Linked DNA regions of Homo sapiens. The protein of the gene in region 1 interacts with the protein of each later gene in a pairwise test. Each region holds a gene or a part of one and is shown on either strand. Other genes may lie near its edges. The genes, in order: IFT88, KATNIP, EML2 and MSRB1.

Evidence for each region.
Region 2: the proteins of IFT88 (region 1) and KATNIP interact in a two-hybrid assay, tested with the Homo sapiens proteins (one large-scale study listed by IntAct).
Region 3: the proteins of IFT88 (region 1) and EML2 interact in a two-hybrid assay, tested with the Homo sapiens proteins (one large-scale study listed by BioGRID).
Region 4: the proteins of IFT88 (region 1) and MSRB1 interact in binary tests that used the Homo sapiens proteins (3 or more experiments, as listed by UniProt).

Annotation. Positions count from the first base shown.
Region 1 is NC_000013.11:20,594,404-20,601,656, reverse strand, and holds part of IFT88 (intraflagellar transport protein 88 homolog), read right to left. Parts: intron 5,508-7,253; coding exon 5,417-5,507; intron 4,643-5,416; coding exon 4,538-4,642; intron 3,007-4,537; coding exon 2,904-3,006; intron 2,207-2,903; coding exon 2,092-2,206; intron 1-2,091. UniProt on the Homo sapiens protein: Positively regulates primary cilium biogenesis. Also involved in autophagy since it is required for trafficking of ATG16L and the expansion of the autophagic compartment.
Region 2 is NC_000016.10:27,732,996-27,740,248, forward strand, and holds part of KATNIP (katanin-interacting protein), read left to right. Parts: intron 1-2,499; exon of another isoform or gene 2,500-2,595; intron 2,596-7,045; coding exon 7,046-7,253. UniProt on the Homo sapiens protein: May influence the stability of microtubules (MT), possibly through interaction with the MT-severing katanin complex.
Region 3 is NC_000019.10:45,609,641-45,616,642, forward strand, and holds part of EML2 (echinoderm microtubule-associated protein-like 2), read right to left. Parts: intron 6,919-7,002; coding exon 6,821-6,918; intron 6,250-6,820; coding exon 6,162-6,249; intron 5,061-6,161; coding exon 4,965-5,060; intron 4,032-4,964; coding exon 3,901-4,031; intron 149-3,900; coding exon 23-148; 3' UTR 1-22. UniProt on the Homo sapiens protein: Tubulin binding protein that inhibits microtubule nucleation and growth, resulting in shorter microtubules.
Region 4 is NC_000016.10:1,938,194-1,946,246, reverse strand, and holds MSRB1 (methionine-R-sulfoxide reductase B1), read left to right. Parts: upstream 1-3,047; 5' UTR 3,048-3,090; coding exon 3,091-3,145; exon of another isoform or gene 3,146-3,262; intron 3,263-3,365; exon of another isoform or gene 3,366-3,453; intron 3,454-4,841; coding exon 4,842-4,958; coding exon of another isoform or gene 4,959-4,990; intron 4,991-5,354; coding exon 5,355-5,467; coding exon of another isoform or gene 5,468-5,469; intron 5,470-7,103; coding exon of another isoform or gene 7,104-7,175; 3' UTR 7,176-8,018; downstream 8,019-8,053. Other genes in the region: RPL3L (ribosomal protein uL3-like), read left to right, coding at 317-412, 629-748, 1,354-1,410. UniProt on the Homo sapiens protein: Methionine-sulfoxide reductase that specifically reduces methionine (R)-sulfoxide back to methionine.

The DNA.
Region 1 (7,253 bases):
ATGGCATTCAAACCATTCACAAATAGTTTTCTTTTTTCGTCTCCCACTTTACTTCGTTTTTGTTTTGTTAAAGCTTTATTGATAAAAGCTTTATATAAATACCATAAAATTCACTCATTTTAAGTATATGATTCGATAATTATTGCTGTATTTATATAGTTGTGGAACTATAACCACATCCTTATTTTAATTCATTTCCATTACCCTAAAAATAAAACCTGTGCTCATTAACAGTCATTCCCCATTCTTATTCCCAGCCCTAGGTAACCATTAGTCTTTTTTTTTTTTTTTCAGACAGGGTCTCTCTCTGTTGCTCAGGCTGGAATGCAGTGGCATGATGTCTGCTCACTGGAACCTCTGCCTCCTGGGTTCAAGCAATTCTCCCACCTCAGCCTCCTGAATAGCTGGGATTATAGGCACATGCCACCACGCCGGGCTAATTTTTGTATGTTTAGTAGAGACGGGGTTTCACCATACTGGTCAGGCTGGTCTGGAACTCCTGACTTCAGGTGATTCGCCCGCCTCGGCCTCCCAAAGTGCTGGGATTACAGGCATGAGGCACCGTGCCCGGCCCATTAGTCTATTTTCTGTCTCTCTGTCTCTTCTAGGCATTGTACATAAATGGAGTCATACAATTTGTGATATTTTGTCTTGCTTCTTTCACTTGGCATAATTTTTTGAGATTCTTCCATTTTGTAGCATGTATCAGTACTTCATTCCTTTTTTTGTCAAATAGCATTTCATAGTATGAATACATACCATATTTTATTTATACATTGCCTACTTGGTAGACATTCGTCTTGTTTCTACTTTTTGGCTATTATGAATAATTGTTATGAATGTTTGTGTAAAAGCCTTTGTGACGATCTATATTTTCATTTCTCTTGGGTATATACCTAAAAGCAGAATTGCTGGTCACATGGTAAATTTGTGTTTTAACTTTTTTAGCTAACTGCCTGTTTTCCGAAGTAGCTGCACCATTTGACATCTCAGTGAATGAGGTTTCTAATTTCTCTAAATACTCACCAAAACTTATTGTTTCTTTGATTGGAGCCATTCTAATGGATGTGATCCCACCTTATTTCTAAACACTCCTCAATATAATCCCTCTATTTCAACTCAATTAGTTTATTCATAATTCTCTGATCAGATCATAAAGACTATTATTTCCCTGACTGGTCTCAGGTGTTGCCTTTTTCTCAGATGTTATCCCTTCTCTCCTCCTAAAGAGTCAATATCAAGTATGCCTCCTTCATAAAGCCTTTCTTGATCATTCTTGTTCTCAATAATGATTTCTTCCACTGAATTATTATAGCACCCATTGTCTTGATTATTGATTATGAAGCACTTAATATATGTTACTCAATACAATTTTTTTTCTAAAATGCTCAAATTCTTGGTCTCACCTGGCTTAAAAGTACTTCAAGGGCATTGTGTTCTGTAAGTTAGATAATATTTGCTAATGATAATGAGATATTATGTAAAATTCAAAAACGAATGATCTTAAAAGATGGTATTGCAAATAAATTAACTTTCACAGAGAAACTGTACTGTGCCTAGGGGAAATTATGATCAGTAAATATCTTGGAAACTTCCTATGTCCCCACAGTTATCACTAGACCATAAGAGAACTTACTGTTTCTGCTCCTGAATATTATAATAGAAAATATCCCAGCTTCCCCCTCTTCTAAGACTCAGAAGTAATCCTTTTCTCTATTTCATTCTCAAGCTACAGCAAGAACGTAAGGGGAGCTTAATTTCTAGCCTTGTATTGATATGTTCTGGAGGACTGCTATTATGATTTTGTGTCCGCATTAAGTTATATCAGGGTAGTAATGGCCTTCAGGGTTAACCCCTTTATTGGTCACTTAGTTTTATTTCATATGATCATATACAATGCTTTAACCTTTAACTTGTCATTATAAAAATGTGTACAAGTAGTAAGAAGGGAACAGATCAAAATACTACACGTATAAATCTCATGTACAAACACTTTGAAATGTTCAACCCACTGAAAACAGGTCAGAAGAGTTATCTTGTTTCAGAAAAACACTTAAATTTTACAATTATTATCTATTGTTATAAACTTACCTCATTTGCTTATTGACACTTGGAACTTGGTCTAATGCCATTCGGTAGAATTTAATGGCTTTGGAATAATTTCTTTGCTTTAAATAGATATTTCCCATATTCATTTTCAATATTCCTAATTTAAAAAAATTTAATGAATGTATAATACTCTCATTTTTCCACTCTTTGATATTTTAGATGACTTTTAATTCATATTCTCTGAAGCATTTCTCAGTTATGAAGTCTCAGATATTATCTAAAATTCTAACTTTAAAACAGTTATACTTTTCAAACTTACCTCCTGTGAAGAAATGGAACTTAAGACAGATTCCTGAAACTATGGCTAGAAAACAACTGATTTACATTATTGTGCTTTACATTATTGTGCGTTCTTCTAAGAAAACATGGAACTTAAAGACATTTAAAAGTTAGACTCAAGAATGCCACATACATTTTAATAATATTAAAGGAAACGACATTCTGATAAACATTAATACTGCTACCAAAAAATTACACAATATAAATGCTAAATATAAACTATAATCTCTTGGGGATAAATTTATATAAGGAAAAGCACATTCTATGAGGATGTCATGGCTCATTCTACTTGTGATAACAGGATACTATTAGGCAATATACCTCATACTAACTATATTTCTTCATCTGTAAGGATTTTTATATAAATAGTATGTTTAAGCAGGATACCCCTATCATAAATACTGATTTGTTTAGAGCATAGATCATTTCATTTTAAGGAAGCATAAAATGAAGAGACATAAATTAACACTACGAAAGAATTACATCTATTGGAAAAACTGATTATGTACACTTACCTGCATTGCTAAACATCTTATTTTTGACTATAACTTGATAAGTGTTAAGTGCTTCGGCATACATTTCATTAACTGAATACTGACTGGCCAAATTGAAAAGAACCTAAGGAAGAAAATATTATAGAAAAGACACATAAGACCACTTTAGGCCCCTTTCACCTATAATCTTTCTAGAGATTAAAATCCTATAACAAAGTTAGCTACTTATATCAAGATACTCAGCCAATTATGAAATTAAGTAAACAAAAGAATTATCTTGCATTACAAATGAACATTAAGAAAAGAAGACCTGTCCTCTAAATTTCACCTTAATTTTCTATGTATTCTATTTAATTTAGTAGTATTTGCCATCTATTAATCTCTGGAGGACCTACAAAGAATAAATGTGTATCATTAATGCTGCTGGTGATCAAAGAAATAAGCAAGATCGTGAACTAAATATAAATTAAACGTGGAAATATCTTAAACCTTAAAGTCTATCAGAAGAATCTGTATAGTAAGCTCTATATACTAAATTACAATTTAAGTAATTAATTTATAGTAAATTATGTTCCTAAAGGTAAAAAATGATCATCATAAATTATCCCTGAAAGATTTCATGGAATCGTAGAGTATCAGCTATAAACAGTAAGCATCTAACACTTCAAAATTTCAAACGCCCTTTTTTTCCTATGTGTTTAGCATATGAAACCTTTACCCACTGAAAATACACCCTTTTAAACAGAAGTGCAAACATTATGGAGGTGTCTTTTCAGAATTAAATAAATGTTGCTAGAAATTAGAGGCATTAGTTTTTTTTCCCCACTACCCTCATAGAACATTATTTTATATGCCTAAAGTTCTTGAAAATCACTGACCGAAAAGTCTACATTACAATCTCATCAAAATAACCACCTTGATAGAGCATTAAAATTAGTGCTCTTCAAGAAATAGAGCCATTGCATGGTAGGTTTGCAGGTACTTACCAAGTTATCAAAAAAAAAATATATATATATATATTTTTTTTTTGAGACGGAGTCTCGCTCTGTCGCCCAGGCTCTGGAGTGTGGTGGCAAGATCTTGGCTCGCCGCAAGCTCCGCCTCCCGGGTTCACGCCATTCTCCTGCTCCAGCCTCCCAAGTAGCTGGGACTACAGGCGCCCGCCACCACACCCGGCTAATTTTTTGTATTTTTAGTAGAGATGGGGTTTCACCATGTTAGCCAGGATGGTCTCGATTTCCTGACCTTGTGATCTGCCCGCCTCGGCCTCCCAAAGTGCTGGGATTACAGGCGTGAGCCACGGCACCCGGCTACATATTTTTTAATAAATAGAGACGAGGTCTCACTATGTTGCCCAGGCTGGTCGCAAACTTCTGAGCTCACTCAGTAATCCTCCCACCTTGACCTCCCAAGGTGTTAGGATTACAGGCGTGAGTCACTGCACCCAGCCTAAAATAACTAGTTAAATAACTAAAGAAAAGAGCTCTTTGCACAAAACAAAGACAAGAGTGTTTTATGAACTAAAGATTATTATTAATCTAATTGTGAGCACCTGAAGACCAGTAAGATTTTAAAAATAAAAGAAAAAAGACTCTGGAACCCATTAACCCTAGTCAAAATTTTATTTAAAAATTGTGTTATATTTCAATACTTACTGAGTAAGTTAAATCCAAATTGATATTTTCTGGAGTTGTAACTTGTTCTCGCTGTCTCACCAGGACTCTCTCTTTTCTTCCTGCATCTTTTGCCTTTTCTAAGGCCTGAAATCAGATTTATACCTTGTAACTTCCTTTGAGTGTTCATCAACTTTTATGCATTTGAGAAATATCTACATGAAGGTTGGATGAATTCATTTTCTATCCTCAGATTCCTCAAGACACCCCTGTGTGCTCTTACCAGAAACTTCCCTTGGAAAGGGACTTTTTGTTTTTTAGAATGACAAAAAAAGCCCCAGTTCTATGAGTAGTAAAAGCAGCTTTTTAAAGTGAACATTTCTTTCTAATGGTATTCATTAATCCAATAACTCACAGAAATTATATTTATATGATATGACAATCAAAGTAACATGAACAAAGCAAATTAAAAGTAAAGATTGATATTTAAAAAGCCAAGTTAGATTCCCAAAAAGCAAACTAATTTTTTAGTTTACTTAGGAAAAAATATTTGATAGTAGAGAGACTTCAAGAAGAAAACAGCCCTTAGTACTGTGTGTGGCTCATGGTAGCTACACCTTTCAGCAGCATATTGCTATCTAATCCAATAGTCCACCAGGCTGCCAAGTTAAGTATACAAATACATTAGAATTTTTTTCCCTACTGAAAAGGCCAATGTCAAAAATTACAAAACCAGCCAATTATTCTGACATTCAAATTTATGAAACTGAGTTACAATTCCTGGTTCTCAAAATAATTGCTTCTTATCCTAAGACCAGTCAACGGCAAACAAAAATATTTGTCTATACATACGGTGTATGTATAAAAGCAGACATACATCTATAAATGCTTCATAATTTTGAATCTTGTTTATGAACTTACCAATTTTAAGTCTCCACAACTATTGGCAATACAGCTTTCTTCTACCAACTCATTTACTTCCTTCTCTAATTGCTTTATTTTTTCCTCTGGGCTATTAAAGACAAAAGCAGGTACAATTTAAATCATTCAACCTCTAAAAATCTATACTAAAATTTATTTTATTTTATTTTATTTTATTTTATTTTACAGACAAGGTCTTACTTGGTTGCCCAGGACGGAGTGCAGTGGCACAATCATAGCTCACTGCAGCCTGTAGTCTTGACTCCTGGGCTCAGGTCATCTCCTCCCACCTCAGCCTCTCAAGTAGCTAGGACTACAGGTGCATGCCACCATACATGAATAATTTTGTTTTTGTTTTTTGTAGTGACAGAGTCTCCTCATCTTGCCCAGGGAGGCTGGTCTTAAACTCCAGGCCTCAAGCGATCCTCCCTCCTCAGCCTCCCAAAGTGCTGGGATTACAGGTGTGAGCCACAACACCCAGCCTAATTTACTTTCAACATTGAACAATGTGCATTTAAACTTCAAGAATAGTTATAGATAAGACAAATGTATACATGGTATTAAAGAGCAAATGTAGTACTGTTTTTAACAACTACATCATGTAATTATTCATAATAGTAAAATAATAACAACAGTCAAGGTAGGTAACATGGCCAGGCGTGGTGGCTCCTGCCTGTAATCCCAGCACTTTGGGAGGCTGAGGCAGGTAGATCACTTGAGGTCAGGAGTTTGAGACCAGCATGGCCAACATGGTGAAACCCTGCCTCTACTAAAAATACAAAAATTAGCCAGGTGTTGGGGCAGGCACCTATAATCCCAGCTACTTGGGAGGCTGAGGCAGGAGAATATTGCTTGAACCTGGGAGACAGAGGTTGCAGTGAGTGATATTGCGCCACTGCACTCCATACTCCAGCCTGGGTGACAGAGCAAGACTCTGCCTCAAAAAAATAAAAAAAAATAAAAATAAACGACAGGTTCTTGCTATGTTGCCCAGGCTAGAGTGCAGTGGCTATTTACAGGCACAATCATAATGCACTACGGCTTGAACTCTTGGGCTTAAGCGATCTTTCTGCCTCAGCCTCCTGAGTAGTTGACACTATAGGCGTGCACCACCATGCCTGGCCATAGAGAAAGTTTCTAATGAGGTGAAGAAGTTTAAAAATCCTGGCTCTATTAATAGCAAATCAAGTATTCCCAAATCAGTTACCTTTCAAAATAACAGTAATGTTGTTTTGCTACCACTTTCTTTTGGCAAAATACAACAATACTCTGAATACACATCAATGCCTAAATAAAATTTTACTACTGCTATATCAGAATAGATAGTAGTTCTCTTAATTCTCTACAAATGGATTTTATAAAAGTATATAGAAATAAATTGAGCAGCATAACTTTTTCTATAAAATTATATTCTTTGAGGAAACCTGGGACTAAGACTACAAAGTTTATTAGTTTATAAAGATCTGTAAAATTCTAACTGAGCAGTAAGCATAATAGATGGTAGTTTTATGAAGGTTACATGAAGTATAGAATTCTATTTTCTAGTTGTCTGAAACACTTGAATGTATGTCTTAAATGTTGCTTACAGATTTTATTATTAAATTCAAAATATCAACATAGAATTTTAAACTTAAAAATCTGTAAGAGAACTTTATGAAGACACTGAAAGTAACTTACCCTGTCCCTATCAAATGCAAAAAAAATGCAATCTATATTCAGGCACTGTTGGCTACCTACCCACACAGAGCCTGCCACCCGCCCTTCTTCTTTGCATGCAGAATCTAAGCAAGTCAAGAGAATCTCATTCTCTTTGCCAAGTGTTTGGTTCAGCCACGAG
Region 2 (7,253 bases), on another chromosome or scaffold:
GTTGTGTCGCCATGCCAAGGCTCCATTTGCCTTAACGGACCCACCTTGGCATGTGGTTTTTGGGCCTAGCCAGTGCTTCATTCCAGATGTTTGTTCTCAGGTTGTATTGGCTGTGCCAAAGGCAGGTGCTCATCTCTGGGGAAAGTGGCTTAAGATGCTAAAGCCCACAGCTCTGCTTCACTGTTGCCACAGTGGAACCGTGCCGCCATGAATCTTTGTTGGGCAGTTGTGTGTTCATTGCAAGAGACCTGCCATTCTACACTGGGGCCAGGGATGAAAGTGGCCTTGCTGAGTTAATTAATCACTTAGATTGAAATAATATTAATATTGTATTAAAAATGCATTACAGTTTCAGCACAGTTGATTCTCACCAACTGTAAAGAAGGAAGATAAGGGCAAAATGTGGGCCAGGAAAGGTGTTCCCATTAACTACAAACCAGCCACAGAGTTTCAAACTGTCCTTTTCAAAATCCATTGCAAAGGGTGTTTGAGGCAGCATGAACAAAAGGCATAAAAATAACTCTAGTTAAAGAAGGAAAAAAAATATTCACACCAAGGAAACAAGAAGGACACACACACACACACACACACACACACACACACACACATATGCAGAGAGAGAGACAGGGTTCTAAAGGTTAAGGTTAAGACATTCGGCAGGAAGGAATTTCATGGTGCACTTCATGGAAGAAGACAGAAGAAGGGAGAAAGAGCCTGGGGTTAAAGCCCTGACGACTGGAGGGGGAGGAAGCAGGCTGGTTCTTGAGGAGAGAAAGGATTTTCCCCCTGGATCCTTTCGTAAAGATGTCCTTTATACAGAGCTGCACTGAGGGGGCGCAGAGGAATCCAGACTCGCAGAATCTTCCATCCTGCTTTCCTCATGGGGCAGATGTGACTCTCATACAGCCTCTAAGCACACCCTTGTGGTATAATGACACTTATGCGGTATATACGTAAATATGTAGAAAAATGTCTTGAAGAACTGGAACCCACACACATACGCACACCCACCACCCAGTGGAGGTGGAGGTGGGGGCTGGGGTGGGGTAGGAGACAGTTAGTCTATAAGGACTTATTTATTATTATTATTATTATTTTCTTTTTTGAGACAGAGTTTCCCTCTTTTGCCCAGGCTGGAGTACAGTGGCACAATCTCGGCTCACTGCCACCTCTGCCTTCTAGTTTCAAGTAATTCTCCCGCCTCAGCCTCTCCAGTAGCTGAGATTATAGGTGCCTGCCACCACGCCTGGCTAATTTTTGTATTTTTAATAGAGACAGCGTTTCTGGCACCTCTGCAGAGCGGTCTCAAATTCCTGACCTCGTGATCCACCTGCCTCAGCCTCCCAAAGTGTTGGGATTACAGGTGTGAGCCACTGCGCCTGGCCCATAGGGACTTATTTAAAAAAAAAAAAAAAAAAAAAGGCCAGGTGCAGTGGTTCATGCCTGTAATCCCAGCACTTTGGGAGGGCGAGGTGGACGGATCACCTGAGGTCAGGAGTTTGAGACCAGTCTGGCCAACATGGTGAAACCCCATCTCTACTAAAAATACAAAAAATAGCCGGGCGTAGTGGCGTGCCTGTAATCCCAGCTACTCGGGAGGCTGAGGCACGAGAATCGCTTGAACCTGGGAGGCAAAGATTGCAGTAAGCTGAGATCACACCACTGCACTCCAGCCTGGGTGACAGAGAGAGACGTCTCAAAAAATAAAAATAAAAATTTAAAAAAGGGTAGGGGCTCAGAGCTCCACCGGTACAGGTGCTCCTAACAGTGGCTAGGCTAGCATGGGCCAGGACTGTGGCTTTCTTGGAATCTAGCTTGACCCACAGAAAGATGGTGGTTAAGACCTTAGCATGCCAGCCATAGTGGCTTACCACATACCAGCTGTGTGACCTTGGGGAAGGCATGTGCCTCAGTTTCTCCATCCATAAGATGGGGCCCTAATGCTTCCCTTGCAGGATTGTTCTGAGGATGACATAGGACAAGGCAGTCTGTTATCCTTTAAACAGAATATCCAGAGAAGTGACTAATATTCCCTATGGGGACCCCACTCTGGTGATCCTTGGGCCACATCTGCCCATGAATGTGGCTTGTTTGGCCTGCAGAGTGCTGGAAACCTTTCAGAGCTCAGAGCTGCCAGGCAGGGTACGACCCTCCCACCTCCCTGTGACCCCTGCATACCACTGATTTCCACCTGAGCCCACTCCTCTCTTACAAGCCTGACCCCTGCCTCCGCCTGCTTCCCTCTCTCAGTTCCCTCTCCGCCAGACGTCTTGGTGGGAACAGGGCTGGAGGTCAGATGGGCTCTGGACTGGGGAAGGAAGATGGGTGGCCATGTTGTGGAAGCCGGCCACCCTATTAGGAAAGCTAGGATGCCCACCTTGTGACTGTGCTGGACTAGATGGTTTCCCCATCACCCACTACCTCTTTAAAGGAAGGTGTTTCTGTCTCACCAGATATCCCTGTGGCAGTAATTTTGCAGAACCAGTCATTGAAAACTGCCCATGCTGTCCTTCTCAAATAGCTGTTCCCCGGTGAATTCACAGCACGCACTTGCTCTGTGCCTCTGCTAAACAGAGAATCCATCCATATAAGCAGGTAAAAGAGTGCTTTGAGAATCGACTTTTCTGACAGTCGGCAAATGGTAGCCTGCCATCTGCAATTGGAGGATTGAAGCCGAGTTCCTGTGGCGTAACGCAGGCCGGACAGTTCTCCTTCTAAATTGCTGCGGAAACCTCTGTAACTCAGTGATCCTGAAATTTGTTAGCTCCTACTCACCTAGCTTTCAGGAAGGCTAAGAAGGGGTTAGTATAGGTGAACATCTCCAGGGTCTCAGATTCTGTCTCCCAAGAGCAGATCAGAAGCCAAGGCAACACGGGAAATAAACGATCTGGAGGTGAAACCCACAGGCCGCCGCTTTTCTGATCAGGTTCATTCTTAGAGCACTGTTGAGACAGCAGTGCTGTTCAGGAGAGAAAACCCATGTTTATTCATTTGCTATTCCAAAGTAATTTATTTATTTATTTTGAGACGGAGCTTCACTGTCGTCACCCAGGCTGGAGTACAATGGCACGATCTCAGCTCACTGCAACCTCCCCCTCCCAGGTTCAAGTGATTCTCCTGCCTCAGCCTCCCGAGTAGCTGGGATTACAGGCTCACGCCATCATGCCTGGCTAATTTTTGTATTTTTAGTAGAGACGGGGTTTCATCATGTTGGCCAGACTGGTCTCGAACTCCTGACCTCAGGTGATCCATCCACCTCGGCCTACCAAAGTGTTGGGATTACAAGCATGAGCCACTGCGCCTGGCCCAAAAATAATTGTTGGGTGGCTACAATGTGCCCTTGGACAAGACGGGCAGGGCTTCAGCTGTCTTGGAGCCTAACTTTGAGTGGGAAAAACAATAAATAAGTTAAAAGCTGATAAGCAAGACCATTCAGAGACTAAAAGGAAATAAAACAGGGCAATAAGATAAAGAGGGGACCGATGAGGTGGGGCTGCCCTAGAGGTGTGTTCACTGAAGGTCCTGAACAGAAGAAGGAGCAAGGCTGTGGGCATCTGCGGCAGAACACGCCAGGCAAGTGCACAGGCTCTAAGGCAGGAGGAACAGGCTGAGCCACATCAAGGAATCGAGGCAAGCGCCAGGAGCCGGAGTCAGAGAGGTCAGCAGGCACCCCTGAAGGGGAGTAGGATTTCTTGTCAGTGCCATAGGAAGTCACTGGGCAGCTTTAAGCAGGAGGCTCCCATGATCTGATTTCAGTTGTTAAAAAAAGACTCACTGCTGTGTGGAAAATGAAGTGAGTGCAGGGTTTGGGGGAGACAGCCCAGAGTGGAGGCAGAGAGACCAACTAGGAGGCGATGGTGGTGTCTCTGGGGGAGACCCTGGTGGCCCAGGCAGCAGCACACGCGGGCAAGGAGGTCAGCTCCAGGGCGTGTTCTGGAGAGAGAGCCGAGGGACGTGCCCACATACTGGATATGAGTGAGAAAGTGAGAGGGGACGAGGGGACGGCAAGCTTTTTAGCAACCGCTCGAATGATGGACCCATTTTTAAGATAGTTTAAGACTAAGTGTGGAGAAAGTGATTTCAGAATTCTGTTTCAGGCACACCAGGCACATTGACTCACACCTGTAATCCCAGCACTTTGGGAGGCCAAGGCAGGAGGATCCCTTGAGCCCAGGGGCTCAAGACCAGCCTGGACAACATAGTGAGACCCCGTCTCTACAAAAAAAAATTTATTTTAATTAGCTGGTCGTGGTGACGTGTACCTGTAGTCCCAGCTATCCAGGATGCTGAGATGGGAGGGTCACTTGAGCCCAGAAATTCAGGTTGCAGTGAACCCTGATCGAGCCACTGTAACGCCAGCCTGGGCAACAGAGCAAGACCTTGTCTCTTAAAAAAAAAAGAGAGCATTCTGTTTTGGGCATTTTATATTGGAATTCCTGTTAGATATCCAGGAAGAGAGGCCAAGCAGTCACTTGGGGCTTGGTGGAGAGGTCAGGGTTGGAGATGAAAATAACTGGGAGCCTGGGACCTGAATGAGACCACCTGGAGAGCAAGGGAAGAGCACTCGGGAGGCCTAGGACTGAGCCCTGGGCAGCCTAGTCGTTCAAAGTGCAGCCGAAGAAAAGGAAGCAACCCAGGAGTCGGGCAGGCTCAGCCAGCGAGGCAGGAGGAAAGCCAGGTGGGTGCAGAGCCACACAAGCCCCAGGGAGGAAAGTCATCGCAAAGGAGGGGAAGCTGCCGAGTACTGCCGAGCCGCCACACCCACCCACTCCTAGGAGAAATTCCTATTGCGTATGGCAGTCAGCTGGACCCTGTAATTTACTTTAGGAACCAGACACTTCTGAGAGTCATTAGTAATGACACCAGGATAACAGATATAAATCAGAATTGTCCCAGACAAACTAGGATGGCCCGTCACCCTAGTTACAGGTGCCCGGGCCAGGTGGGTTCCATGTGGAGGTGGAGGCAGAAGCCCAACGGGAGGAGGAACAAGGGGTAGTGGGAGGAGGAGCCCACGGGGACAGTGACACTCAGAGATTCACTGACGGGGTGACGGACAGATCATGCGGGGGGCCCTGCAATGGAATATTCCTTAGCAGTAGAAAGGAAAGGAACTATCAGTTCCCATAACACAGGTGAATCTCAGAGCAGTTATGGTGACTGAAAGAGCCGAGCAAAAAAGACTACATGCAACATGATTCCTTTATGTAAACATTCCAGAAAGGACGATCAGTATATAGGGAGGGACCATAAGTGGGTGGTTGCCTGGAGCCAGGGAAGGAGGAAGGGGAGACAGGGGTTACCAAGGGGCACGAGGAAACCTTAGGGTGATAGGTACGTTTGTTCTCTTGAGTGTGATGGCTTCATTGGCGTAGACACATGTTAAAACTGATCAAGCTGTACCCGTTAAATATGCACAGTTTATTGTATGGGGTGTGTATTCTATTCCCCGATAAAGCTGGAAAAAGAGTTTTGCTGTAAAGAGGATGACACAAGTGAAACAGTAGCAGGAGATGTGATTTTATCTTAAGCATGGAAGGAAGAGAGTTGAACCTGCGTGACATAGGGGCATTTAGGCTGGCAGTGAGAGAGGAGAGCGAGGTGGGGACCATTTGTGAAGGTTACTGTATGTCATGTGGAGAGCTTTGGAATTTATCCCATCATCGGCATGGTTCTGCACCCCGTCGTGTGAAGAAATCATCCGGAGAACTTGTTCTGAGTCCAGAAGTTACCTACAGGCTGCCTTGAGGCAGTGGTCCTCACACGGCATCCTCCTGGCTCCCTTCCAACTGCAGCTGCCGTGAACATGGGACAGTCCCCGCATGTGGACAGTGCCCTGCCTCAGGTGCTCGTGGGGTGCTCTGCCGTGGGAGCACACTCAGCTCGTGCATGTGTTGGGGCATCAGTGCCCTGAGGGCAGCCTTCAACAAGCAGTGGATAAATGTCCCAGTCTTGGAGAGACATTTGCGACATGCATTTAAGCAGAAGACTCCCATGATCTGATTTCAGTTAAAAAAAAAAAAACTCACTGCTGCATAGAAAATGAAGTGTGAGTGCAGGGATTTGGAGGAGACAACGCAGAGTGGAAGCAGAGAGACCAATTAGGAGGCGGCAGTGGTGTCTCTGGTAGAGACCCTGGTGGCCTGGGCAAGGAAGGCAGCAGCACATTCCAGGTAAAGAGGTCAGACCCAGGAAGTGTTCTGGAGAGAGAGGCGAGGGACAGCTGGCGGATTGGATGGGCAAGTGAGAAAGAGAGGGATCAAGGGGGCCACGAGGTTTTTGGCCACTGCTTCAATGATGGAGCCATTTTTAAGATAGGTGAAGACTAGGGTTGGGGAAAGTGAGATCTTGGAGTGCCGCAGAGGGCCCCCGTGGGAAGGAGCACCAGTTGGCCACAGCAGTGACCAGCTCAAAAAAACTGGGTTTTTCCTTTTTCCTGCCCTATCTTGCTTTCCCCATTTCCTCTTGGAATCACCTGCCAAATACTCGACTTGCACCCGAGTCCTTGTCTCAGCCTCTGCTTTTACGGTCTCCCAATTATGATGCCCACGGAGGCCAGGAAAGCTGTTTTATAAGCACTCCAGGCTTTTCGACGCAGATGGTCTCAGGAACTGGACTTTAAAGAACACTGCTATAGGCTGTGAAAAAACATGAAGGATTTCACACAGGGGAATGACTGGACAGATTTGCTCTGGTAGGAAATGAACTCTGGTGGCAATGTGAAGTCCAAGTTAAAGTAGCAAGAGACAGGAAGCAGGGAGACCCATTAGTAGGCTATTACGAATGTCCCGACAGGAGGTAATGATGACGAAGGCAGCGATTGAGGCCGTCTCTTTGTGAAAGTCCTTTGATTTATAGAGTATGTAGCGGTTCCCACAGAAATGAGACCAAGCCTAGTTTCACACCCCCAGCACTGTGGTTTTCAAAAGCTTGCATTTCTAGCATTTCACATTTTCTTTTCTTTTTTTGGTATCTTCGACTTCCAAAATTTCATACATCAGTCTGATGCTATGCATCTTCACTTTGTTAAATCTTATGGTTTCAGGATCTTGACATTGGTGCCAAGAACGTGAAGCTTTACGTCAACAGAAACCTCATCTTCAATGGCAAGTTAGACAAAGGAGATAGGGAGGCCCCAGCTGACCACAGCATCCTGGTTGACCAGAAGAACGAGAAGAGCGAGCAACTAGAGGAGGCCATGAACGCTCACTCGGAAGAAAGCAAAGGCACCCATGAGATGGCTGGTGCCAGCG
Region 3 (7,002 bases), on another chromosome or scaffold:
ACCTGACTCTTCCCTGGCCGCATCAGACCACCCGCCACTGTAGCACACTGGTGTCCTTGCCCCCTGTGGTCAGGGCCATGCTGTCATCCCACAAGAAGGCCACATTTGTCACATGGCTGCTGTGTCCACCGTACTTGTGGCTGAGGGCCTGTTACAAGGAAAGAAGTAAGTGAAGAAATGTCAGTGGGGACAATGCCACCCCATCATGGTCCTCTTGTCTTGACCCGGTTCTTTTCTGCTCTTCCTCTTTTTTTTTTTTTTTAATCACTTAGAGTGAAGTCACTTAGGTATGAGCACAGCTTCAATGCAGCCTTGACCTCCTGGGCTGAAGGGATCCTCCCACCTCAGTCTCCCAAGAAGTAGCTGGGATCACAGATATGCGCCCCCACACCTGGCTAATTCTTTTTCCTTTTATAGCAATGGGGTGTCCCAGTGTTACCAGGGCTAATAAGCCCTTTGTTTAAGAACCAACAGAGGCCAGGCGTGGTGGCTCACGCCTGTAATCCCAGCACTTTGGGAGGCCGAGGCAGGCGGATCACAAGGTCAGGAGATCAAGACCATCCTGGCCAATATGGTGAAACCCCGTTCTCTACTAAAAATATAAAAATTAGCTGGGTGTGGTGGCGCATGCCCGTAATCCGAGCTACTTCGGAGGCTGAGGCAGGAGAATCACTTGAACCAGGGAGTCGGAGGTTGCAGTGAGCCAAGATTGTGCCACTGCACTCCAGCCTGGTGACAGAGTGAGACTCTGTCTCAAACAAAAAAGAACCAACAGAACAGCTGGGCATGGTGGCTCACGCCTGTAATCCCAGCACTTTGGGAGGCCGAGGTGGGGGTGGATCACTTGAGGTCAGGAGTTCAAGACTAGCCTGGCCAACGTGGTGAAACCCCGTCTCTACTAAAAATACAAAATTAGGCCTGGCGTGGTGGCTCATGCTTATAATCCCAGCACTTTGGGAGGCCAAGTTGGGGAGATCACTTGAGGTCAGGAGTTCGATACCAGCCTGGCCAACGTGGTAAAACCCTGTCTCTACTAAAAATACAAAAAAATTAGCCGGGCGTGGTGGCACACGCCTGTAGTCCCAGCTATTTGGGAGGCTGAGGCATGAGAATCACTTGAACCCAGGCAGCGGAGGTTGCAGTGAGCCGAGATCGTGCCACTGCACTCCAGCCCGGGCGATAGAGGGAGACTCTGTCAAAAAAACAAAAACAAACAAAAAACCCAGCAGGGCAACTGAATTGGTTTATTCAGCAAGTTAATGGCATAAATAGAAGAAATAGCATGCACGTGGGGAAGGCTATTCTACATGCTGGGATTTGAGACATAAGCAAATGTAGTTTGGACCCTGGTTCAAACAAACCAACCATAGAAGGCCAGTCTGGGGCACATCAGGGAAATATGAATATGTACTGGCTATGAGATCATATTTAGGAATTAACGTTTTGTTTTTGCCTTCCTAGGGATGAGGCATGTAAGAAATTAATGTTGCTGGGCGTGGTGGCTCACGCCTATAATCCCAGCACTTTGGGAGGCCGAGGCAGGCAGATCGCCTGAGGTTGGGGGTTCAAGACCAGCCTGACCAATATGGAGAAACCCTGTCTCTATTTGAAAAATACAAAATTAGCCGGGCATGGTGGTGCATGCCTGTAATCCCAGCTACTCAGGAGGCTGAGTCAGGAGAATCGCTTGAACCCAGGAGGCGGAGGTTGCAGTGAGCCAAGATCGCGCCATTGCACTGCAGCCTGGGCAACAAGAGTGAAACTCTGTCTCAAAAAAAAAAAAGAAGAAGAAATTAATGTTAATTAGGAGTGGTCAGAGGCTTGTGGATATGTAACAATTCTTCTTCTTCTTCTTCTTCTTTTGAGACAGAATCTCGCTCTTTTGCCCAGGCTGGAGTGCAGTGGTGCAATCTCAACTCACTGCAACCTCCGCCTCCCAAGTTCAAGTGATCCTCCTGCCTCAGCCTCCTGAGTAGTTGGGATCACAGGTGCCCGCCACCACCCATGACTAATTTTTTTGCATTTTTAGTAAAGACGGGGTTTCACCATGTTGGCCAGGCTAGTCTCGAACTGTTGACCTCAGGTGATCCGCCTGCCTCGGCCTCCCAAAGTGCTGGGATTACAGGCGTGAGCCACCGGGCCTGGCCAGAATTATCCTTATTTTTTTAGGCATGAATGCTCAATTTAGAGGGCTAAAAGATAACCTATGCGTTTTCGTGTGTGTGGGTTTTTTTGTTTTTGTTTTTGTTTTATGACGGAGCCTTGCTGTCGCTCAGGCTGGAGTAAAGTGGCACGATCTCCGCTCACTACAGCCTCTGCCTCCCGGGTTCAGGCAATTCTCCCGCCTCACCTTCCCCAGTAGCTGGGATTACAGGCGTGCACCACCAGGCTTGGCTAATTTTTGTATTTTTGTATTCTTTTTTTTTTTTGAGACAAAGTCTCACTCTATCGCTCAGTGCATTGTTGCTTAGTGGAGTGCAGTGGCGTGATCTTGGCTCACTGCAACCTCTACTTCTTGGGTTCAAGCAATTCTCCTGCCTCAGCCTCCTGTGTAGCTGGGATTACAGGCGCCTGCCACTACGCCTTGCTAACTTTTGTATTTTTAGTAGAGTCAGGGTTTCACCATGTTGGTCAGGCTGGTCTCAAACTCCTGACCTCAGGTGATCCATCACCTTGGTCTCCCAAAATGCTGGGATTACAGGCTTGAGCCACCGCACCCGGCCACATATGCAGTTTCTTAAAACTACAGACCAGGACAGGTACTGTGGCTCATGCCTTGTAATCCCAGCACTTTGGGAAACTAAGGTGGAGAGGATTGCTCAAGCCCAGGAGATCAAGACCAGCCTGGGCAACAGAGAACCTATCTCTATGAAAAATACAAAAATTGGCCAGGTGTGGTGGTGCACGCCTGTAGTCCCAGCTACTCAGAAGGCTGAGGTGGGCGGACCGCTTGAGTCCAGGAGGTCAAGGCTGCAGTGAGCCGAGATTGTGCCATGCCACTGCACTCCAGCGTGGGCAACAGAGTGAGACCCTGTCTCAAAAATAAAAAATAAAAAAAGAAGAGAAAGGAGAAAGAAGAAACAAATGAAATAAATATACCAAATCTGGTAATAGTTGAACATGGGTAACAGGTACAGGAGGAGTCACTGTACTAGTCTTTCTGCTTTTATGCATGAAAATTTCCTAGGAAAATGCTGAAACAATCCCTCTTCTGTTAGAACCAGAGAATGGTAAAATTAACGTCCAGCTTTTTTTTTTGTTTTTGTCTTTGTTTTGAGACAAAGTCTTGCTCTGTCGCCCAGGCTAGAGTACAGTGGTGCAATCATGGCTCACTGCAGCCTCAACCTCCTGGGCTCAAGCAATCCTCCCACCTCAGACTTCCTTGTAGCTGGAACTACAGGCATGCACAACCATGCCCAGCTAATTTTGTGTGTATTTTGTAGAGATGGGGTCTCACTTTGTTGCCCAGGCTGGTCTTGAACTCCTGGCCTCAAGCAATCCTCCTGCCTCAGCTTTGCAAAGTGTTGCGATTACAGGTGTGAGCCACTGCAACTGGCCTTGGCCTCCCTTAAAAACTCATAAGATCTGGTTGTATATCCTGTGCCTAGGTACATAGTAGGTGCTCAATAAATATTTACTGAGTTAACAAGGATAAAAGAACCAAAGAGCTCAGAATTGCAGTTGCTCAGAACTTCAGAGAACCAGGTCTTCACCATGACACACTGAAATTCATCCACCTTGGGGTTAAGAAAGGCCCTTGGGATCAAGACTACTGTCCTCCTTGTACAGATGGGGAAACCGAGGCTCAGAGAAGGGGTGGGGTTGGACCAGAGCTGCCTGAATTTTGTCCCCACCCCTGCTTGCTACCCCCGTCCATCCCCATCTCCCCAAGGGACTCACTCGAGGCTGACAGCAGGGGTAGCTAAACAGGTGAACTTTGCCAAAGTCATCAGCTGAAGCCAGCAACTTCCCATCATGAGAGCGGGCCACAGCGTTGATATCAGTGCCGTCCGCCCCCTCAGACCAGATCCCTGTGGGCAAGATGAAGGGAAGTGGTAAGATGTCAGCTGGAGCCAGGGACCGCCAAGAGGAGCAGATTGCCACTCCAGCCACCTTAATTTGTTCCGACCTAGCCTGTATCTATCCGAGGATATGAGTCAGAATTACCTTAAAATGTGAATCCGAGCCTGCCCCTGCTCTGCTTAAAACCCTTCCATGGCTCCCTGGTGATCTTAGAAGAAAGCCTGTGGTTCTAAGGCTCAGCAGGCCCCATGCACTGCTCCAGCCTCATCCCTCATCAGTGCTCCTGTTAAACTCTGTAATGATTTGGCCACCCTGCCTCCCTGCATTTCTCCAAATGCCAAGTTCTGTGTCACGCGTGGGCTTTTGTATGTACTATTCCCTTTGCCAAGAGACTGCTTTCCTTCTTCACTGCCCTGGAAAGTAACTCCTCATCCTCCAGGTCCTAGCTCAGATGTCTCTTCCTCCAGGAAGCCCTCCCTGATTCCCTCCAAGAGTAGGCCAGATGCCCCACCCTGGGTTTCCCTGTCTCAGACCTGCTCACTCTGGGTCATCACTGTCTGGGGACAAGTCTGCCTCCCCCACTGGACTGAGAGCCACAGGAGAGCAGGGCCGTCAGTCATGGTCACTGCCAAGCCCACGGCAGGCACAGAACTGCTCAGGGAATATGTGTTTGCTTCATTCGTGCCTGAATGAATGGGTGGCTAGGGCACCGGCAGTGTGGATCTCTCCTGGCCAGTTACCACGCCCATTTGGTTTCATTTTATTACAGCTCTAATGAGTCATCTCACCCTACCCTTTCCTCTTACACAAATACAGCCCACATGCAGTAAAGCAGTGAGCTTCCCACACTGGAGGTAAGCAGTAAGACTCTGGAAACCACCAGCGGGGATGTCTCTCAGAACTACTGTCCTCAGTGAGACCTCTCTCATTCCAGAACTCACCAAACACCCCAAACCCTAGGACACAAGTAGCTGTGGCCCATTCCATGTTCCTCACAGCATCCGCACTGGTGATCTGCTTACAGGTAGCCGGGTCCCCTGGGGCAGAAAATGGGAGGAGACATTCAGAGTTGGAAGAACTACCCAGTAAACCCATCCCTTTCTTAGACAATCGGAGCTGAGGTCCAAGACAGAGGAGGCTAAGGTCCCAGGGCTCATTCTACCTGTCAGGACTGGCTGAGAAGGCATCACATGCTGGGGTCTTCACAGCCCGCAGCGTAAGCAGGAGCATCTACTTTTAAACCCGCATCTGGCCGGGCATGGTGGCTCACGTCTGTAATCCCAGGAGGCAGCATGAGCCACAGCATCTGGCTGGATCACCTGAGGTCAGGAGTTCGAGACCAGCCTGGCCAAGATGGTGAAACCCCATCTCTACTAAAAATACAAAAATTAGACCAGGTGTGGTGGCTCATGCCTGTAATCCCAGCATTTTGGGAAGCCAAGGCAGGCGGATCACCTGAGGTCAGGAGTTTAAGACCAACCTGGTCAACATGGCGAAACCCTGTCTCTACTAACAATATTTTAAAAATTAGCTGGGCGTGGTGGTGGACACCTGGAATCCCAGCTACTCAGGAGCCTGAGGCAAGAGAATCGCTTGAACCTGGGAGGCGGAGGCTGCAGTGAGCCGACATCGTGCCATTGCACTCCAGCCTAGGAGACAAGAGGGAAACTCCCATCTCAAAAAAAAAAAAATACAAATACAAATATTAGCCGGGCATGGTGGTGTGCTCCTGTAATCCCAGCTACTCAGGAGGCTGAGGCAGAAGAATCACTTGAACCTGGGAGGCGGAGCTTGCAGTGAGCCGAGATCGCGCCACTGCACTCCAGCCTGGGGGACAGAGCAAGACTCCGTCTCAAAATAATAATAATAATAATAATAATAATAATAATAATTAAAAATTTAAAAATGTAAAAAAAGAAACCTGCATCCTACCCATCCGACCGGAAAGGGGAGGAGTTGACTAAAAGTGGGGTATACCAGGGAGAAAATGAGAAGCCAGCGGTCCCTAAATTCCAAATCAGAACCAGCCTTGAATACCAAGGGAGCGAGGCTTGAAGCCCCTCCCTCCCCTCCCAGAACTCAGGGAAGTCTGCAAATGAGACGGAGGAAGTAATGTCTCTGGGTCCCGGAGAACTCACAGTACAGAATCTCATAGTCCCCGGAGTTGGTGACAAAGCAGCTGCTGTCCTGGGCCCAATCCAGGTGGGTGATAAAACTGGAATGGCCCTGCGGGGGAGGGAAGGGATGGTGTTAGAGCTGCAGAGGGCGGAACCAAGGAGAGGGGGACAGGATTAAATCAGGAAAGTGGAAGTCAAATACAGAGGTAGGGCGAGAACACAAGGGGACTAAAGGAAGGATACACAGGCCTTTGGAGTATGGGGGCAGGGCCAGAATACTGTGGGCGGGGCCAGACTGTGATGGGCAGGGCTAGACAAAAAGCACTTAGAACACAATGGGAGTTTAGAACAGGTGGGCAGGGCTAGACACGGAGGAGCTGGCTTTGAATGTTGAGGGGCGGGGCTACACAGAGGGGCGGTCTCGGAACGTGAGGGGCGGTCTCGGAACGTGAGGGGCGGGGCTACACAGATGGGCTTAGCACGTGGGGGCGGGGCTACACAAAGGGGCGGGCTTAGAACACACGAGGTGGTGAATGTGTGGACGTGGCCAAGACTCCTTGCTCTGATCAGGGCAGAATCAGTTGAGTGTTGAAGCTGCGCTCCCTTGAGGTAGAAAATTGGTTAATTTTGCACCCCCTGGGCGGGGTGGCGGCGCGGGCTGGGGGCCACTGCCCACTCACCGAGCACTTGCCCAGGCGGCTGACCTTGCGGCCGCCCTGGTCCACCGTGTACACGTACACCAAGTTGTCGTGGGAGCCCACGGCCAGGTACGCCCCGTCTGGGGGAGGGGGAGGGGGGCTATGAGGAGGCACCCAGGCTCCATCCCCTCCTCGCCCAGACTCAGCCCCCTCAACAGTCCCCA
Region 4 (8,053 bases), on another chromosome or scaffold:
GGCCACCTGGGCTCAAACCGCATCTCCAGGACTTAGCAGCTGTAGAGGCTGGAGCAAGTGACTCCACTCCTCTGATCCTCAGTCTCCCCCAACAAAAATGCAGACTGTCAAGTGAGATAATGCATGAAAAGGACTTAGCTTGTGACTCAGATGCTGCCCTCAGTAGGGGCGGCGTGATAGTCACCCCTACATCTGGGGGCTGGGCACGGGGCTCCTGCCTATCACTGCCCCCTCTGGGGGTTCTGCTAGGGCCCCCAGCCACCCACTAACTCAGAAGCCCTTTCCGGGCCTGGCCTCTGACCTGTGTCCTCTGCAGGGTGGCTTCCCCCACTACGGGGAAGTGAACAACGACTTCGTCATGCTGAAGGGTTGTATTGCTGGTACCAAGAAGCGGGTCATTACGCTGAGAAAGGTTGGCAGTGCTGGGTGGGCTGGGGAGTGGGTGCCCGAGGGCTGCCAGCCTGTCCTGCCCTGCGGCCTGCTACGAGCGGGATGGAGTGGTGGGAGCAGAAGGGGAGGGCTCTGGTAGGAACTAGGTGAGCAAGACCTTCCTGGTGGGGCTTGGAGGTTCACAGCAGGGTGTGGGGGATCCCCACACTTGATGTTTACTTTACCATGGATTCCCCAGTCCCTCCTGGTGCATCACAGTCGCCAAGCCGTGGAGAATATTGAGCTCAAGTTCATTGACACCACCTCCAAGTTCGGCCATGGCCGCTTCCAGACAGCCCAAGAGAAGAGGGCCTTCATGGTGAGCTCACCGCCCCCATCCTTGTTCTTCTCTGGGGCTCCAGCTCCACATCCAGCCTGCCCGAGTAGGGAGCTGGAGCTGGCAGGGACTCCCCTGAGCTCAACTGCAGGAGAGACTCTTTTTTTTTTATTTATTTTATTTTTTGAGATGGAGTCTCGCTCTGTCACCCAGGCTGGAGTGCTGTGCCGTGATCTTGGCTCACTGCCACCTCCACCTCCTGGGTTCAAGCAATTCTCCAGATTCAGCCTACCCAGTCGTTGGTACTACAGGCACGTGCCACCACGCCAGGCTAATTTTCTGTATTTTTAGTAGGGATGGGGTTTCATCGTATTAGCCAGGATGGTCTCTATCTCCTGACCTCATGATCCGACCGCCTCGGCCTCCCAAAGTGCTGGGATTACAGACATGAGCCACCGTGCCCGGCCTGCAGGAGAGACTCTTAAGGGTCTATCCCTGGGCACTGATTCTTTAGAAGAGAAGGTGGGGGAGGAAGCAGCCTTAGGGGGGCAGTAGGGCCGGCCCTGAGTGATCTAGAGCCTGGCTGGGGGAGGGCGTGTTTCTGGCCAGAGTGACTAAGGCTCCTCCTGCACCACCCTCTCAACCAGGGCCCCCAAAAGAAGCATCTGGAGAAGGAAACGCCGGAGACCTCGGGAGACTTGTAGGCTGTGTGGGGTGGATGAACCCTGAAGCGCACCGCACTGTCTGCCCCAATGTCTAACAAAGGCCGGAGGCGACTCTTCCTGCGAGGTCTCAGAGCGCTGTGTAACCGCCCAAGGGGTTCACCTTGCCTGCTGCCTAGACAAAGCCGATTCATTAAGACAGGGGAATTGCAATAGAGAAAGAGTAATTCACACAGAGCTGGCTGTGCGGGAGACCGGAGTTTTATGTTTTATTATTACTCAAATCGATCTCTTTGAGCATTTGCGGAGCAGAGGTTTTTTTTTTTTTTTTTTTTGAGAGAGTCTTGATCTTGTCGCCCAGGCTGCTGGAGTGCCGGGGAGCAGAGTTTTTAAGGATAACTTGGCGGGTGGGGAGAGCCAGTGAGCCAGGAGAGCCGATTGGTCAGGGAGGAAATCACAGGGAGTCAGCTGTCTTCTTGCGCTGAGTCAGCTCCTGGGTGGTGGCCACAAGATCAGATGAGCCAGTTTATCAATCTGGTTGGTGCCAGCAGATCCATCAAGTTGCAGGGTCGGCAAAATATCTCAAGCACTGATCTTAGGGGCAGCTTAGGGAGGGTCAGAATCTTGTAGCCTCCAGATGCACGACTCCTAAACCATAATTCCCAATATTGTGGCTAATGTTAGTCCTAAAAATGCAATCTAGTCCCCAGGCAAGGAGGTGGTCTGCTTTGGGAAAGGGCTGTTACTGTCTTTGTTTTAAACTATAAACTGGCTGGGCGCGGTGGCTCACGCCTGTAATCCCAGCACTTTGGGAGGCCAAGATGGGCGGATCACCTGAGGTCGGGAGTTCAAGACCAGCCTGGCCAACATCGAGAAACCTCGTCTCTATTAAAAATACAAAATTAGCTGGGCGTGGTGGCGCATGATTGTAATCCCATCTACTCGGGAGGCTGAGGCAGGAGAATTGCTTGAACCAGCGAGTTGGAGGTTGCAGTGAGCTGAGATCGCGCTACTGCACTCCAGCCTGGAAACAGAGTAAGACTCCGTCTCAAAAGAAAGAAAGAAAGAAAGAAAAAAACAAAAAACTATAAACTGAGTTTCTCCCAAAGTTATTTCAACCTACCAGCAGGGATGAATAAGGACAGCTTGGAGGTTAGAAGCAAGATAGAGTCGGCTGAGTTAGATCTCTTTCACTGTTTCAGTCATCATTTTGCAAAGGCGGTTTCACCTGGGCGCGGAAAGGCTGCATGACCTCCGGCAGCTCCGGGCTTAGTACCAGGGACTGGACTGGGGGGACACGACCCTACGGATTCGCGCCGTCGCCCACCTGGCCAGGCCCCATGTGCGCCCCTAGCCACCAGGGCGCGAGGGGCGGCAGGGGCGGGGCCTTGGGGAAGCGGCCTAGGGGTGGTCCCTGGGAGTTTCCATGGGCGGGGCCTGCTGGGGAGATGCGATTGGACTGGCACCGGGGGGCGGGGCCTTGGGGAAGTGGCCCAGGAGTGGTCCCAAGGAGTCAACGTGGGCGGGGCCAGCTGGGAAGATCGTATTGGACCAGCCCTGAGGAGGGGCGGGGCCTCCCGGAGGCGGAAGCCGGGATTCGCCCTCCGGGGAGCGATTGGTCCTCGGGAGGGGCGGGGAGGTGGACGCGGGTACCGGCGGTCGTCGGGTCGGCAGCCTTTGGTCAGTTGGCAGCGGCAAGCGCGCTGCGGTTCCGGTGGCGCCATGTCGTTCTGCAGCTTCTTCGGGGGCGAGGTTTTCCAGAATCACTTTGAACCTGGTTGGTCCTGCGGCCTCTCGCTGGGAGGGCAGCGCGGCGGGGGGCGCGCATTAGCGGGGGCGCCGCCGTCGTCCGGGGGTGATGTCTCTCCCAAGCCGGGAATGGGGGCGAATGTGGCTGCCGGGGAGAAGCGAACAGGGGTCAAAAGGACTGCGGAGGAGTGGGGAGCCTGGGGGCGAGGAGAGTGGGGTACCCGAGGAGAGGGGGCCTTGGGGCTCACCGTCCTGGAGGGGGCAGGCCTCGAGTGTGAACGTGCCGTTTCGGGGGTGGGTCTAAGGGATCGGGATACGTGGGGGTGGTACCCCTTCCCTACCCCCTACACTCCAAAGTGATGGCGCTGGGGGAATTCGGGTTAGGGTCGGGGCTTCGGAGAGGCCAGGTTCTTGTCCAGGGCCAGCTCCTGTGGCCGGGGCGCCCCTTCGCGGGTCATCCCGCAGGTGTTACCCTGGCCCTTCCCATTCCCCCGAGTCCGGGATCTCTGGGAGGAGTCTGGCAAGCATAGAATGTCCCCTTCAGATCCTAATGTGCCGGCCCAGGTGCCTCCCCACCTGCCCAGGGACTCCAAATTGGGGAACCAGGAGTGCCACCAGGCACCTGCCAACAGCCCGTGAAGTTTGACCAGGCAGGCAGGATGGGGTGGTTTGGGGCATGGCCAGCCCTCCACACTGGCCCTGATGAATCCCTTCTGGGCTGGGCTCGCCTGGTAGTGGACTAATTTGGTAAAAACACATCCACAGGCAAGTCTGAGTGCACTGGTCTCCTTGGGCGGATCTGCTGGGTGGCACCCCTGTAGCGGGTTGGGCTGTGACACAGGACCATCCCGGCAAAGCCTCCCCCAGCAAGACTCTCTGGCTTTAGATCCCAGTTGTCCTCAGGCTGCTCTGCCAAGCCAGAAACTCCACTTCCACAGCAGCTGCTGGCTTCTCTTTGCTTTTTTCTCCAGTTCCTGGAAAAGGCTGGGTAGTTTACAGTCTCCAGGGGAGGCTGTCCCCAGGTGATGGGTGAGAGGTGACTCAGCACCCCTGGAGGTTCCTGTTTTCAGTCCTTAAAACAGTTCTGCAAGTCAGTTTTGCAACTTTCCCACCCCCTCCACTCCAAAGGGATCCTTTGTGGGTAGGCTGAAATCTGTTGTCCCCAGCCCTCTTTCTTCCTGGGCTCCTGTGTGGCCTGGAGGCCTTTTCTCTGGGACTGTTCTCTTCCTGCCTGGAGAGCAGAGCAGTGCCTGGGTATCCAGCTTAGGGCCTCGTTGGGCAGCAGGGAGGACCACTTGAGAAAGGAGAGGGACCAGGTGGTTGGGCCACATCAGGGCCCCTGCCCTCTATGTTCCTGGGGGAACTAGGGGGGCGAGGGGGAGCTCCGTGTCCTCATTGGACTACCCAGGTTCCTTCACGCTGCACACACTTGTAGCTGAGTGTCTGCATCACCAAGCAAAGATGGAAATGTTAGGATATGCCCCGTCACGGGGCTATGAGAAGAATCAAGGAGATAATTGTGAAAGGTGACTCCCCTGGTCTCTGGCACATCTACTAAACGTGAGCTCAGCACAGCGCCTCCCGTGGCGGGTGCCTGGGGAAGGAGCACAGCCTACCCTCGGAACGGGGGCAGCGCTGTCTTTGCCTGGGTTGGTGGATTTGGGAGCTTGACCCCGGAAAGGCGGGAGCTGATGACTCCACATTTGCCTCTCCTTCCACCACAGGCGTTTACGTGTGTGCCAAGTGTGGCTATGAGCTGTTCTCCAGCCGCTCGAAGTATGCACACTCGTCTCCATGGCCGGCGTTCACCGAGACCATTCACGCCGACAGCGTGGCCAAGCGTCCGGAGCACAATAGATCTGAAGCCTTGAAGGTGAGAGGCCACAGGGGTGGGGGAGGGACGGGGGCGGCCAGGGAGAGCAGAGAGCCAGTCCCACCTTCCTCCCTCTGCTTGCCCCACAGCTCCAGGGGCTTAGAGGCGTCTATTCCAGGCCTGTTGCCTCTGCCAGGGAGCTGCCACCCCAGGCTATCGGGAGAGCCTGGCCTTCTGGTGCAAATGTGGGAAACAGGACAGGTTTCCTGTACGGGCTCCAGGACAAAGGTCAACCTCTTATGTCGGCGGTCAGCTTGGGAAATAGGCGTGTGGGAAGAAACACCATCTGCCAGCCCCAGTAAGGGCCTTCACTGTGGCTGTATCATGGCCAGAAGCTCACCCAGCTGCCTTGTGATCTTTCCAGGTGTCCTGTGGCAAGTGTGGCAATGGGTTGGGCCACGAGTTCCTGAACGACGGCCCCAAGCCGGGGCAGTCCCGATTCTGAATATTCAGCAGCTCGCTGAAGTTTGTCCCTAAAGGTGAGCTTGCTTTGCACAGCTGGGGCCAGGCCTGTTGGCCTTTGAGCCCAGGCTGGGGGGCCCAGTGTTTGTGCTTGTCCACTTACCATGACAAGGTATGGGGCCACCAAGTCACGCTGCCTGGGAACTGTCCAGGATCCCCCAGAAAGGTGGCTGCAGCGCAGGGGCAAAGGAGCTGGTGTTCCGCTTCCTCGCTTGGTTGATCATGACTGTCCCAAAAAGGGGCTTCAGCGTGAGAATGTGGCAAATGGTTTTCCTCAGAGGCCTGGCCTTTCCCAGAGGCTAGAGTCAGGGGCGGGGCAGGCAGAGCCTGAGGCCCCAGTCTGTGCGGCTGTGTCTCCCACTGGCTAGGACTGTGGCCTTGCTTCTTAGCCGCTCAGAGCCTGCCTCCTCCTCTGCAGAGTGGCGGTGGTAGCAGGGCTGTGAGGACAGCTGCGTGTCACGTGCACCTGGGCCTGGCACACAATAATAGCTTGATGAATCCTCATCCTTTTTTTTTTTTTTTCTGAGATGGAGTCTTGCTCTGTCGTGCAGGCTGGTGTGCAGTGGCGCGATCTCAGCTCACTGCAACCTCTGCCTCCTGGTTCAAGCAATTCTCCTGTCTTGGCCTCCCAAGTAGCTGGGATTGCAGGCACGCATCACCACGCCCAGCTAATTTTTGTATTTTTAGTAGATACGGGGTTTCACCATGGTGGCCAGGCTGGTCTTAAACTCCTGACCTCAGGTGATCTGCCCACCTTGGCCTCTCAAAGTGCTCGAATTATAGGCATGAGCCACCACGCCCAGCCCACACCTGGTTAATTTTTAATTTTTTTTTTTTTTTTGGTGACAGAGTCTTGTTCTGTCACCCAGGCTGGAGTGCAATGGCCAATCTCAGCTCAATGTAGCCTCTGCTTCCCAGGTTCAAGTGATTCTTCTGCCTCAGCCTCCCGAGTAGCTGGGATTACAGGCTCCCACTACCGCGCCTGGCTAATTTTTGATTTTTTAGTAGAGACGGGGTTTCACCATGTTAGCCAGGCTGGTCTGGAACTCCTGACCTGAGGTGATCTGCCTGTCTCAACCTCCCAAAGTGCCGGGATTATAGGCGTGAGCTACCGCACCCAGCCAATTTTTAAAATTTTTATAGAGATGGGGGTCTCACTATGTGGCCCAGGCTGGTCTTGAACTCCTCTGGGCCTTGGCCTCCCAAGGTGCTGGGATTACAGGCTTGAGCCACTGCCTCGCCTGAAATGGGGCTGTTAACAGCACACGCTTGTGGCCATCACCGTGCTGTGGGGTTGAGCGAGCAGCCTGTCAGGATCTGGTGCGTGGTAAACCTGCGATGTTTTCGTCCTTTTGTTGTTATTTGTCCTCCGTGTGAGTGGAGGGAGAAGAGATTCTGGGTTCTCCTGTGGATGTCAGAACAAAATGGGGTACACAGACTCCCCTGAGTCGGGCATCTGGTCTTTTCAGCTCCCCTGTGGCCTGCAGGCCAGGGCAGAGTGTGAAAGCGCAGGGAACGGCACCTGAAGCTCTGCCTTGCAGTGACTTGCTTTCTGCCCCTACCCTGGCTTTCCACCGCCCCCGCGCCCGGCTTTCCGCCCCTGCTTGCTTTCTGTCCCCGCATACTTTCCGCCCCCTCTCCTCTCTTTCAGGCAAAGAAACTTCTGCCTCCCAGGGTCACTAGGCGGGCAGCCCACACCCACCCCAGACGGCCACCACACTGAGGCCACACGTTGGCCATTCCACCTTGGAGTTGGAACCCTGGGCGTCGAGACAGGAAGGCAGGGCGCAGTGGTTGAAACATCAGGACACTCCCAAGGCCCCGGCTCTGAACAAGACCTTTTCGTTTCTTGGAAAAGAGACTCATTTGCTGATGGTTCATGCCTTCTGCTGGGACAGGCCTGGGCTGTGCAGCCACACTGTCGGCTGACTTAGCCCCCTGCTCACTCTAGGTGCCTCCAGGAGGTGAGCCCTGGGTGCAGCTGGTCTCTGAATGACGTTACACCCTCACCTTCTTTTCCTGGCCCTGTCTCTGGACTCTCCCCTGTGAGGCCCAATTCCAAGACAGACTCTCGTCCTCACCGAAGCTTAGGCCCACATCTCCCAGGCTGCTTAGGAGACAGAATGGAAACGGAGGCCGCCCCTGCCAGCCGCCCTGGCCCTGGTCACTGCATGATCCGCTCTGGTCAAACCCTTCCAGGCCAGCCAGAGTGGGGATGGTCTGTGACCTGCTGGGAAGGCAGGCTGATGGGGCACACCCTTGGCCTCTCGTCCACGAGGGGAGAAACCTAAACCCTGTTTCACAATCTGTGCGGAAGTAGCTTGCCTCACTTCTGCTTAGGAAAGCGGCTGTTGCTCCATAACTCTAACCAGCACAGGGCTGAGGCCTGCAGTGCACACCTGCAGGGAGGCCCTTCCCAAGGTGTGGTGACTGTGCCTTACTGTACATGCTCGGAGGCCTGGCCATATAGGAGGGTGGGTGATGCTGAAATCACCCCCCATCTTAAGTAATTACTTTCTGGAGTAATCAGGTGGAAATCCATAGACAAATGAAACATTCAGATGTACTGTCTTTTTTTTTGTTTTGAGATGGGGTGGGGTC